Regions from separate parts of the Homo sapiens genome. Here region 1 is linked to region 2. Evidence: fine-mapped expression QTL. A gene starts in region 2. The other region holds a variant in brackets. All regions are shown on one strand. Distances are between the middles of the regions.

Region 1 (5,369 bases), 40 kb after region 2:
TCAGAGCTCAAATGCCATGCTGGGAGAACCACTGCTCTCTTCAGAGCTGTCAGACTGGGACGTTTAAGTCTGCAGAAGTTTCTGCTGCCTTTTGTTCAGCTATGCCCTGCCCACAGAGCTGGAGCCTAGAGGCAGTAGGCCTTCCTGACCTCTGGTGGGCTCTACCCAGTTCAAGCTTCCTGGCCACTTTGTTTACCTGCTCAAGTCTCAGCAATTGTGGATGCCCCTCCCCCAGCCAAGCTGCCACCTCACAGTTCAATCTCAGACTGCTGTGCTAGCAGTGAGCAAGGCTCTGTGGGCATGGGACTTGCCAAGTCAGGCACGGGAGAGAATCTCCTTGTCTGTTGGTTGCTAAGACCTTGGGAAAAGTGCAGTATTTGGGTGGGAGTGTACTGTTTTTCCAGGTACCATCTGTCACAGCTTCCCTTGGCTAGGAAAGGGAAATCACCCAACCCCTTGTGTTTCCCAGGTGAGGCAACACCCGGCCTGCTTCAGCTTGCCCCCCGTGGGCTGCACCCACTGTCCAACCAGTCCCAATGAGATGAACCAGGTACCTCAGTTGGAAATGTGGAAATTACCCATCTTCTCTGTCAATCATGCTGGGAGCGGCAGACTGGAGCTGTTCCTACTCAGCCTTCTTGGAACAGAGCCCCCCTCACAAAGGACTTTCTCTGGCTAACTCTGATGCTTTTCTGAGTTCTTACCTAAATTTCCCCTTCTCCTTCTGTGGCCCTGCCAGTTTTGTTTTGTTTTGTTTTGTTTTGTCCTTATCACTACCCTTGCTGCCTCCTCAAATTATCCAGAGCCACTGTTGTTTTCTAGAACATTGGCAAGCACGTTGATAGAGTGCCCACATTGTACTGAACTCTGAGGGGAATAGTCTCGTCCCCATCACTCAGGTGGGGAAACTGAGGTGAGGTTAGTTTAAAGTGGGTAAGCAGTGGGTTTGGAATTGGAGCTCTGGCTGGCTGGCTCATGTCCGTGCTCTTCCCACCACAGCAGGAGGCCACTGGAGGCTCCAAGGGCTCTGAAATGTTGAGAACTTCCCTGCAGGTACCAGCGAAGAGGGCAAGAACACAGCACTACTTCCTTGGATACTGTTTCCCTCCTCAGAGGGGTTTTCTGAGCTGCCCTGGGTCCTGTGAGGAAGGTAGGAATTACATTTCACTAGGGAACAGCCAGGGTCACCTCCTTGCCTGAGGCCCCACCATCCCATCAGCCTGGATGGGCCTGCTCAGCAGCCACACTCGCCCCTAGGCCGAGAAGGGGTGGGGCTCGGTTCCACAGAGTCTCCCAGGGCCTCAGGCAGGTACTCTAGGCTGATTCCATCTCCAGGTTCGCAAGTAAAAAAAAAGTCAACTGCCCAAAAGACTTCTCTTAGAACTCACAGCAGGTTAGGCTGGCAGGTGGAGTCTATGCTCGGGTGGTCCCATCTGCCAGGCCTGATGTTCCAGGTGAAGAGATTGGTGAGCACCAGGTGACCCCACCCAGGTGCACGTGGCTCTGTCGGGTACAGGCAAGTCTCTGCCCACCAAAGGGACACCACAAGGGCCCAGGCAAAGCAGAGCCTTTCTCACTGGGTGTCTGCTGGTGCTGATGTCACCAAGGAACACACCCCGGGCAGCTTAAACCACAGACGTTTATTCTTGCATAGGGCTGGAGGTCACAAGTCTGAGATCAAGGTGCTGGACAGCCTGGCTCTTCCTGAGGGTGGCTGGCAGGTCCAGTGCAGGCCTCCCACCTTGGCTGGTGGACAGCCATCTGCTCCCTGGCTCTCCATATCACCTTCCCCTTGTGCCTGTCTCTCTCCAGATCTCCCCTTCCTGTAAAGACACCAGTCCTACTGGATCAGGGCCCACCCGTGTGACTTCACTTTTACTTGAGTACCTCTCACAGACCCTAACTCCAAATCAGGTCACTTGCTGAGGTACTGCATGTGAAGACTTTGACATTTGAATTTTGAGGGGGCCACCGTTTAACCTGAACCACCAAGGACAGAGCCAAAGACCCTGGGTGACAGGCCCAGAACAGGACCTGGTGGAGGCTCTTCTTTAGGGGAGAGAGGGAAATGGGAGCCACCACTGGCAGAGCCTGAAGGCAGGGCAGCCAGAAAGAAGCTGTGGGAGTCCCCACCATGGAAGACCCTGCCGAGCATCCTGTGTCTCCTGAAGCAGACCCTGACATGAGGACTGGGGGCACGTGTTTATTAAGGGCGATCCCCGGAAGGAGGAGATAACCAGGTAGGGAAGGAGGGAACCCCAGGGCAGGGCTCTAGAGAGAGAGGATGACCCTCAGGAGCAGGAGGGTGCACCTGAAACCAGACCCAGCAAGAGATGGAAGCCCTGGGAGCAGCCCCACTCCAGGTCCTCTGCAGGAGTGACCCAGCTGCCACCAGGCTGCCCTGCCCAGCTCAGCAGGCCCTACGGGTGCAGGGAAGCAGATGGGCAGTGAGATCTGGGACCGGTATAGAACCACAGCTGCCACAACT[G/T]CCCATGGCTCCCTCCCTTCTTTGACGTCAGAGTGAGCAGGGCGGTTTCTGCTGCCTTCGCATTCCAGCCCCACACACCTCCCTGCAGCCTGGCACTGGAAACTGCTGAGCCATGCAGGGCAGCCTGGTGGCGGCTAGGACACTTCTGCAGAGGACCTGGAGTTGGGCTGCTCCCGGGGCTCCCATCTCTTGCTGGGTCTGTTTTCAGGTGCACCCTCCTCCTCCAGGAGGCAGGGGCAAGACCAGCTTCAGCCCTTCTTGCTCTCCATGGTCTGTATATGGACAGGGTGTGGGCCCGGGGAGACAGTTGTGTGGTGTGTGCATTGTGTGTGTGGGGGGGGTTGTCTGTGTGTCTGTGAATATTTGTGTGATATGTGTGTAGTATGCTCATGTGTCATGACTCTGTGAGGGTGTGATGGAAGAGTGTGTGTAAGAGAGAAGTTTGAGTGTGTGTGGTGTGTGCATCTGGTGTCTGTGGGTGATGTTTGTGTACATAGTGTCTGTGTGTGTGATGTCGGTGTGTTGTGTGGGTTTGTGTGTGTATATAGTGTCTGTGTGTGTGATGTCAGCGTGTTGTGTAAGGATTTATGTGTGTGTGTGGTGTCTGTGTTTGTGATGTTGGTGTGTTGTGTGTGGGTCTATGTTTGTGTGTGATGTTGGTGTGTGTGATATCAGTGTGTTGTGTGTGGGTTTATGTGTGTGTGTGTGATGTCTGTGTCTGATGGTGTGTTTTGTGTGGGATTGTGTGTGTGTGTGTGGTGTCTGTGTGTGTGATGTCAGTGTGTTGTGTGTGGGTTTATGTGTGTGATGTCGGTGTGTGTGATGTCAGTGTGTTGTGTGTGGGTTGATATGTGTATGTGTGATGTTGGTGTGTTGTGTGTGCATTTATGTGTGTGTGGTGTCTGTGTGTGTGATGTCAGTGTGTTGTGTGTGGGTGTATATTTGTGCATCATGTCAGTGTGTGTGATGTCAGTGTGTTGTGTGTGGGTTTATGTGTGTGTCTGATTTTGGTGTGTTGTGTATGGGTTTATGTGTGTGTGGTGACTGTGTGTGATGTTGGTGTGTTGTGTGGGTTTATGTGTGTGGTGTCTGTGTGTATGATGTCAGTGTGTTGTGTAGGTTTATGTGTATGTGATGTTGGTGTGTGTAATGTCAGTGTGTTGTGTGTGGGTTTATATGTGTTTGTGTGATATTGGTGTGTTGTGTGTGGGTTTATGAGTGTGCATGGTGTCTGTGTGATGTTGGTGTGTTGTGTGGGTTTGTGTGTGTGGATGTGGTTTCTGCCTATGGGAGGAGGTTTGCTCACAGATGGAGGAGAAGGAGCTCTATAGGCAAAGATCCCAGGGCCGTGGAGGAGGAGACACAGTCCTGAGAACTCCTTCCTCTGAATCAGAAGGACAGGAAAGGTGGGATTTTAAAGGAACAGAGAACCCTGGTGGGAGAGGTGAATCTGAGCTCCTCGGGCCATCGGGTGTCCTGTGGAGCAGAGGCAGGCCCGTGAGGGTGATTTTCAGAATGCTGCCTGCTTCTGAGAGTGAGATGAAGACCCTCTGGGGTCCCGTTGATGTCACCAATGTCGCCTGTCTTGAGGCATCTCTGGTCCAGACCTGGCTGGGAGAGAGAGCTATGGGTGGAGATGCACTGGGTGGGTGCTGGTGGGAGGGGAGGGCTGGCTTTTCCTCAGCCCCCAGACTTAGAGAAGATCACACGCAAGAGCTTGGAAGTCCTGGGAGGAAGTATGATCCCGAATCCTGGCACACTTGATCATGCGTGACAGGGACTTAAGAAAGCCCCTAATTATAGCCGTGTGGGGTTTGTCTCCCTTCTGAAGCTTGGCGCCCGTGTGCTCAAGGCAAGGGCGTGACCAAGGTAAGAGACCCCTTCTCTCCCTTAGGCAGAAGTCCTAGCAGAGTATGCCCACGCTGGTTAGTGCTGCTGCAAAGATGAGCCGAAGACCATGAGAGACCTCCAGGTGGTCCTTCTGGGGAGAAGAAATGGGTTTTGGCCCCAAATCCTTCTGCTGCATTTTTCCCCTATCCCTGGGAAGCCATGAGACCTCAAACCTGTGTTCCCAAGGAGGCGAGCTGCTGTTCCCAGGTGATGATATGATGTGCTTGGGGAAAGTAAGTGGCTGCCAGACATGGCTGAGAGCTGTTGTCACTGCCGTCAAGTGCATGTCTCCAAGCCATATCACACGGCGTCCCTCGATGTGAGGCCACATGGCAAGTGGGCCGTGGATCTCCCTCTGCCCTTTGCAAGCACGTAAGACAGCAGATTTTGCAGATACCTTGTGGCGCAGGGGAATTTCCTTTGGCCAGGTCTGAAGAAATAAAGCAGCAGGCACCGAGAACAAAGCCAAGGCTTTCAAAAGACAAGGAGCCAAAAAACTTACTCAAAATAAAAGTAGTTTTAAAATGTCTCTGCCATTGGTAGTCTCATTTTCTTTTTAATGTAGGAAATAGTCAAGTATTAAAATGACCAAAATGAAACAAGTGCCTCATGGACTGAGAAGGAAGGAGGAAGATAAAAAATGAAACCAGGACAGAGAAGAGAGGGAGGTTCTGGGTGTATTTGCTTTGGGATTACATGTGCGCATGTCTTGTTTTTCCCTTTTATATCTCCCTCATCTGAAATATGTAGCAAAGAAAAATTTAAGCTGTAAGAGGGAAACTTTTTCCAAACAGTGAAGTTTACCAAACTGTGGCCTGAGATCTATATTCACATTCTAAAAAACCATGCCCAATTCCCCACGCTAACAGCAGCTCCAGACCAAAGAGCAGCTCTTGTCTTGACCAAAGTGAATAACTATCTTAACACGAGGTGACTAGAAACCATCTGTCTTGAGACCAGAGAGGAGACCTGTGGTCAGTGACGCTGTTCA
Region 2 (5,369 bases):
GTGAATCAGAGAAAGGGCTGAAACAGTGCCCTGAAGCCTGGCCAGGCAGGGTCACTGGGAGCACCCTGGTGGGGTGTGCAATTGTATGGTTCATTTGCCCAACACGGCACAATGCACAACAGAGAAAATCAAATCAAACTCCAGACAAGAACACTTTGCTTAAGAAAGCAGATGTGAGAAATGTGCCACTTGTTTGTGAAAGTTTTTCATCAAAACAGCTCTCACAGAGATGGGGGGGTTTGATTTAAATGAGAAATGTGCTTATAAAAAACAGATCTTTGGTGAGTAATGAATAGCTATTATCTTATCTATTTAATTATGTATTTAAACGACATATGAAATTTATTATATTTTCCTAAACAAGTTTGAATTATGTTTTTGATTATCTGAAGTGCAACAAAGTTCATCTGCAATGATTCAGCTGTTTATTCATTCTAATATATGGCCACCTACTACACTGTCTGGCACCTATCGAGAGTTTAACAGATGTTTAATTAATAAGTAAGCATCAGTTGGTGAATAGCAGTGCTATTCCAAGATCTTGAGGAAATATTAGAATCTATAAGATGTGGCTCTTCCTGGACAATCAGGCTGAACTCAGCAATTCTGCCACTTCTCAGAGGCCAAAACCACTCCATGAGAAGGCTCCCTATCAGAGCCAAATCACCTCTGGGCAGAGCCAAGATAAATCCAGTGCAATCTACATGAAGTTGTCTGTTTAGACCACACAGATCTGCACAATCTTCCCTACAGGGCCCTGGTGACATCTGCTGAAATGAATGAAGCAGTCGAATCAAGGGCACCATGCTTCACAGTCACGTTTCTCATCTTTTCGCTGCATGGACTGTTCTGCGGGGACGTGGCGGGTCTCGGGGCTGGGCAGTCTCAGAGGGTCAGGATCTGAGCGCACTATGGATCCGGGGAGAGGGAAGGGTTAAGAATCAGTGAGGAAGGGGCTGGGCAAGGACATTCTACCCACCCCCCACCCCCCGCCAAAAAAAAAAAAAAAAAAACAACTCACAGGAGGCAAATCTTTGGTGTGTATTTGCAAATGCCAAAGAGAAACATAAAAGAATGGTTTTCCTATGGAACACTGAAGAAAAATGTCGATCCTGATCTTTCCTCTGTCTCCTGCTTGCCCCCTGCCCTACGAGGCCAAGCAGCCAAGCAAGTGGTCAACAGGTGGCCTCTCCGAGCAGAACCGTTTCAGATGTTTAAGAGAAATGACATTTTAGGAGTGGAGCAATGAGCTCAACTTTCTGTGACAAACTTCAGGGGTACTTGTTTAAAAGCATGTTATTTGTGCTTCACCCACAAAGGTTCCAATTTGGAAGAGCTGAACTGGGCCCAGGAATGTATATCCTTTGTGTGTCCAGGAGGAGGTGTGGGTGGAGATAAGCAGCTCCTTGACCACACTTCAAGCAACAACTGGGGTGTGATTCTGAGGCATGTCTTCTCCTCCTCCATTGACTTTCTCCTCTCCAAAGGGTTATCACTGGTGTGACCAGCTCCTCCAGAGGTACCTAAGGTGATCTCATAGCAAAGACCCACGCCCTGGACCCATCCTGCTAGTGATGAATCTGAAGGTTCTGAAGGTTCTGTGCATAACCATGTGGAGCCTGAGTGCACAGGGGCCCAGAGCTATCCTGATTTCTAATCTGGAGCTCTTTTGTCTCTACCAAACTGCTTCTTTATTGAAACTTTACATCCTGAGGGGTTCACTGAATAACAGCGACCCCAAGGCACCTAGAAACAAGCAATGTCATGTTTCTGTACTTGGATTAGAAAACAGGAAGGGAAGGCAGGAGAGTGTGTGGTGTATCTTAGAAAAACTTTTTAAACGTGATACAATCTGAGGAAAATTTGCATTGATGCCAGTAGAGGGCTAGATAGCTTTAAAATTGATCATTTAAATGTATTGACGTAGAAACGTATTCACAATATACTTTAAATGGAAAGCTGTGTTAGGGTCAAGTCTTACAATGCGATTCCACGGTTGCACTGCCACACACACACACTTACATATGTGCCCAGAAAAGCATTGGAAGTAAACCACGTCCTCCTGTTAATAGCAATTGTTTCTGGGTGGTGGAGTTTAGGGGAACTGATGCACTTTTTTCTTTGGTTTTGCCCATCTGTACTGTAACTTTCCCCGAACAAATGTGCATCACTTGTGTCATAATTTACTTTTTTTAAATACATGGAAACAACCACAGTCTGTATTTATTCTCTGGTTAAAGTGCTAAGCCTTGTAATCTAGAATATTCATCTGTCCGAGACTGTACCCTGGGACTCATCTCACGATGAGACATTTGGCCTCCTCCCCAACTCAGTTTCAGAATTCATCTGCTGGATTTCTGAGTCCCACTGAGTGATTAATGTCACACGGGTGACAAGGCATGACTCATAGGCACCAAGAAAGCAGCAGCAGTGTGTGCAGGCCGGGAAGTTGCCACAGCCCTCACTCAGGGCTTCATGCACGCCAGGGCAGTCCTGGGTCAATGGTCTCTTTCCCCTCCTCCTGTTGGATAGATGAAGAGGCCTGAGCAGGAAGGTGGTGGTTCCGTGGGGAATCTTCAGTGACTGGAGTATGTTGTAAGGATGGTGAATCGTCACTTGGCCAGCCAGGGTTTGGCAGTCAAGACAGAGAGCAGTGTCTGGGCCCACAGCATGAGAGACTGCTGGACTTCAGTCTTCGGAGCAGGCAAGAACGGGGAGCTTCTGTGGATTTCTATTCCTGTCGCCTGTCACTGTGAACAGTGCCCAGTACTGCTGGTCAGTAAATGTTTGCTAAAATACTGAGCAACCAAGGAAGTGACTTCAGTTGAACTCTGTACCTGTTGTGTTCACTTCCTTTGCAACATGCGTGACTAATGGTTACTCCTTCTCTTGAATGCTTCCAGAAGAGTAGCACTCACCACCTCATGAGGAAAGGCACTGCAACTTTGGTCAATGATATCTGTTAGAAAGATCTTTTCCTATATTTAGAAGAGTGATTCTCATACCTGAGCATGTATGAGAATCAGTGGGTTTGAGGTGGGCCCAAGAATTTCCCTTTCTAACAAGTTCCCAGAAGATGCTGATGTGGCAGCTTCTAGCACAGTGCTTGGAAATCCATGAGTTTTCAAGAGGACAATCTAAAGTGTTCCTTTGTTTTCCTTTACTTCCCCTCATTCTCAAATCCTATGGGGATGACACAGAGAACCACAAACAAAACAACACACACACACACACACACACACACACATACACACACAGAGCACCCTTGTCCCTAGCTTTATCCTCTGGGATACACAGGACAAGCTCCTCCCTGTTCTATGTGCAACTTTTAAAATATGTGCAACTTTTAAAATACGTGGATGTGGCTTTCACATCTTCTTAGTCCCTCTTTAGCAGATTTTTTACAAAACAAATAAGCCAGGAAACCATGGTCTGAAAGGATTCCTGCTCTGGTGAGATCCAAGACCCACAGCGAGGGCGAAGACAGAGGTCTTGCTGCAGCCCCGGCTTCCTCCACATGGAGGTCCCAGGAAGACGGCATAAGCCATTGCCTCGATAATAACCTGCTTGCTAACTTCCAGCCAGTGCTTCCACATTTTCATGACTTCCAAAGGTTCAGATGAGGATGGTAGTTGTGAGTTTGGGATGAAGTCTTCTGAGCGACTCCTATGGCCCAGCCACAGGGACCTGGGGCTGGAGAGAGAGGACCATCCCAGGCTGCAGCAGCCAACACCTGTGTGGAGGTGCAGGCCCGTGGCCCCCAGCTGTGGTGGACACAGCTGTGCTTCCTGATAGCACCCTTCCCTGCACCTACACCGTGACATCCTCCTCCTCAGCCTGAGTGCAGGCACCACCTGAAGGGTATTTGGGGGAGGGCACCAGTGTCCCCAAGGTAGGAGCTAGTGCATATGGCCTCGTCCTTCAGAGGGACAATTCTGAGAGGCAATCTGCGTGCTTTCAAAGGCCCAGAAACACACCCTGTGTTGCCTCCTCCCTGTCTGACTCTTCCTCTTCCTCCTGCTCCCTGGGACCAGCTCCCAAACAAACTCAATTTCTTCTCTCAGTCGAAGTTTGCTAAGTGAGTGAAGAGTCAAATAAATGATGTTGCTTAACTCTCCCTCTGATGTGTGAATGTCCTCTAGGAACAAGCCTTTTGTAGGAGAACTGTAGGCCAGGGCTGAGTGCACCTGGGATGCAGGATCTCCAGGGGGGACCTATCACTTGTGCGAATTTAAACCTGCTCAGAGCTTAGGGCCCGGCTCTGCTCAAGATGGGCAGAAATAAAGAAGACTAAACATTTACATCTCAAGAGTTTATTTACCCTGGCCTGACTCTTCAAAAAATGCCATTGCTGCTACCCTGAGGATTAACCATGGCCATTTTTAGACCAGGTGCCATCCTGCCTTTAGCCTCGGGTCACCCCTCTGACTCACTGCCAGGAAACGGAGCCTAGACCCTGATGTGTGGTGAGAATTGGCCTGGTTTTCACCTGAGATCCACACTTGAGAAAGCTGATTGAACTCACAGCGTGCCATCCTGCCTAAGATCCTCTTCAGAGATTCTATTTCCCAGAGGGAGGGGATCACTTTCCGCAGTGGGGTTTCTATCTGGGACATTTCTCTTCATCTGTAGGAACCCTATTTAAAGGCTAGAAAATCTGAGGGAGAAGTGGAAAGAAGAAAGCTGTGTAGCTGTGACGATGGCCTGGGACATGGATTCCCAAAGCCTGACCCTCCGCTGTGCCCCCTGCTCCCCAGCAGGCATGGTTAGCCTGTCATGGAACCCTGCACCTGAGCCTGGGCGAGCTCCAGATTCCTCAGCACACAGAGCTCCAAGCTCCTCCTGCCAGGCCGCCAGGGCTGGCTCCCGAGAGAATGCACAAGCCTTTTGTGGTGTCTGAGAAAACACAGCTGAATCTACTAGGCAAGGGGTTGTATAGGGCACCTCGGGAAGAAGTCGCACAGGTGCCCCCAGAGATCTCAGGGGCAGGGAGGGGCTCACCCATAAGGGAAGGGGAGGACTCAGAAGGCTTTGAGGAAGAGGCAGCTCCTAAAATGGGTGAGGGCAGAGTGTGCCCTGAGGCCCCACAGCAGGCAAGCAGGTGACTGGAGAAGCAGCTAGGTCTGGTGCCTGTGTGCCAGGCTTGTATGCCAGGGCTGGGCTGCATGGGATGCACAATGCTACTGGGCCAGCACCATCAGCAGTGTACTGCCCCTCACACCCAGGGCAGGCCTTGAAGCTAAGAGAGGGATGGGGCAGTGCCCATCGTTCTCCTGCCACTGGAGTGTGACCTTCTGGTGCCATGACAGCCAGTGGGTGGCAGGTGCCTGCCCCTCTTCCCATAGGCTGCCCCAGGAGGAAGAGGGGCC

Direction of the effects. Alleles are on the strand shown, and positions count from the first base shown. SD is a standard deviation of normalised expression in the study named.
For the expression in tibial nerve of the gene that starts at base 2,464 in region 2, allele G in region 1 goes with a lower level than allele T (large effect, 0.77 SD a copy in GTEx).

What was found. PIP is the estimated chance that this variant, and not a neighbour inherited with it, causes the effect.
Region 1: its variant is the best candidate, but not a certain one, in a credible set for the expression of LINC03125 in tibial nerve (GTEx, PIP 0.89).

Annotation. Positions count from the first base shown.
Region 1 is chr20:23,185,401-23,190,769 of GRCh38, forward strand. LINC03125 (long intergenic non-protein coding RNA 3125) reads left to right here. Exons shown (of 6, transcript NR_199692.1): 5 at 1,915-2,240; 6 at 4,383-4,907. Among named protein-coding and RNA genes, the nearest start is that of LINC03125, 40 kb to the left of the region's middle. The variant G/T (reference allele first, on the strand shown) is at 2,489.
Region 2 is chr20:23,145,640-23,151,008 of GRCh38, forward strand. It overlaps LINC03125 (long intergenic non-protein coding RNA 3125), which reads left to right and starts at 2,464. Exons shown (of 6, transcript NR_199692.1): 1 at 2,464-2,775. RefSeq lists enhancers at 1,913-3,112, 4,607-5,369.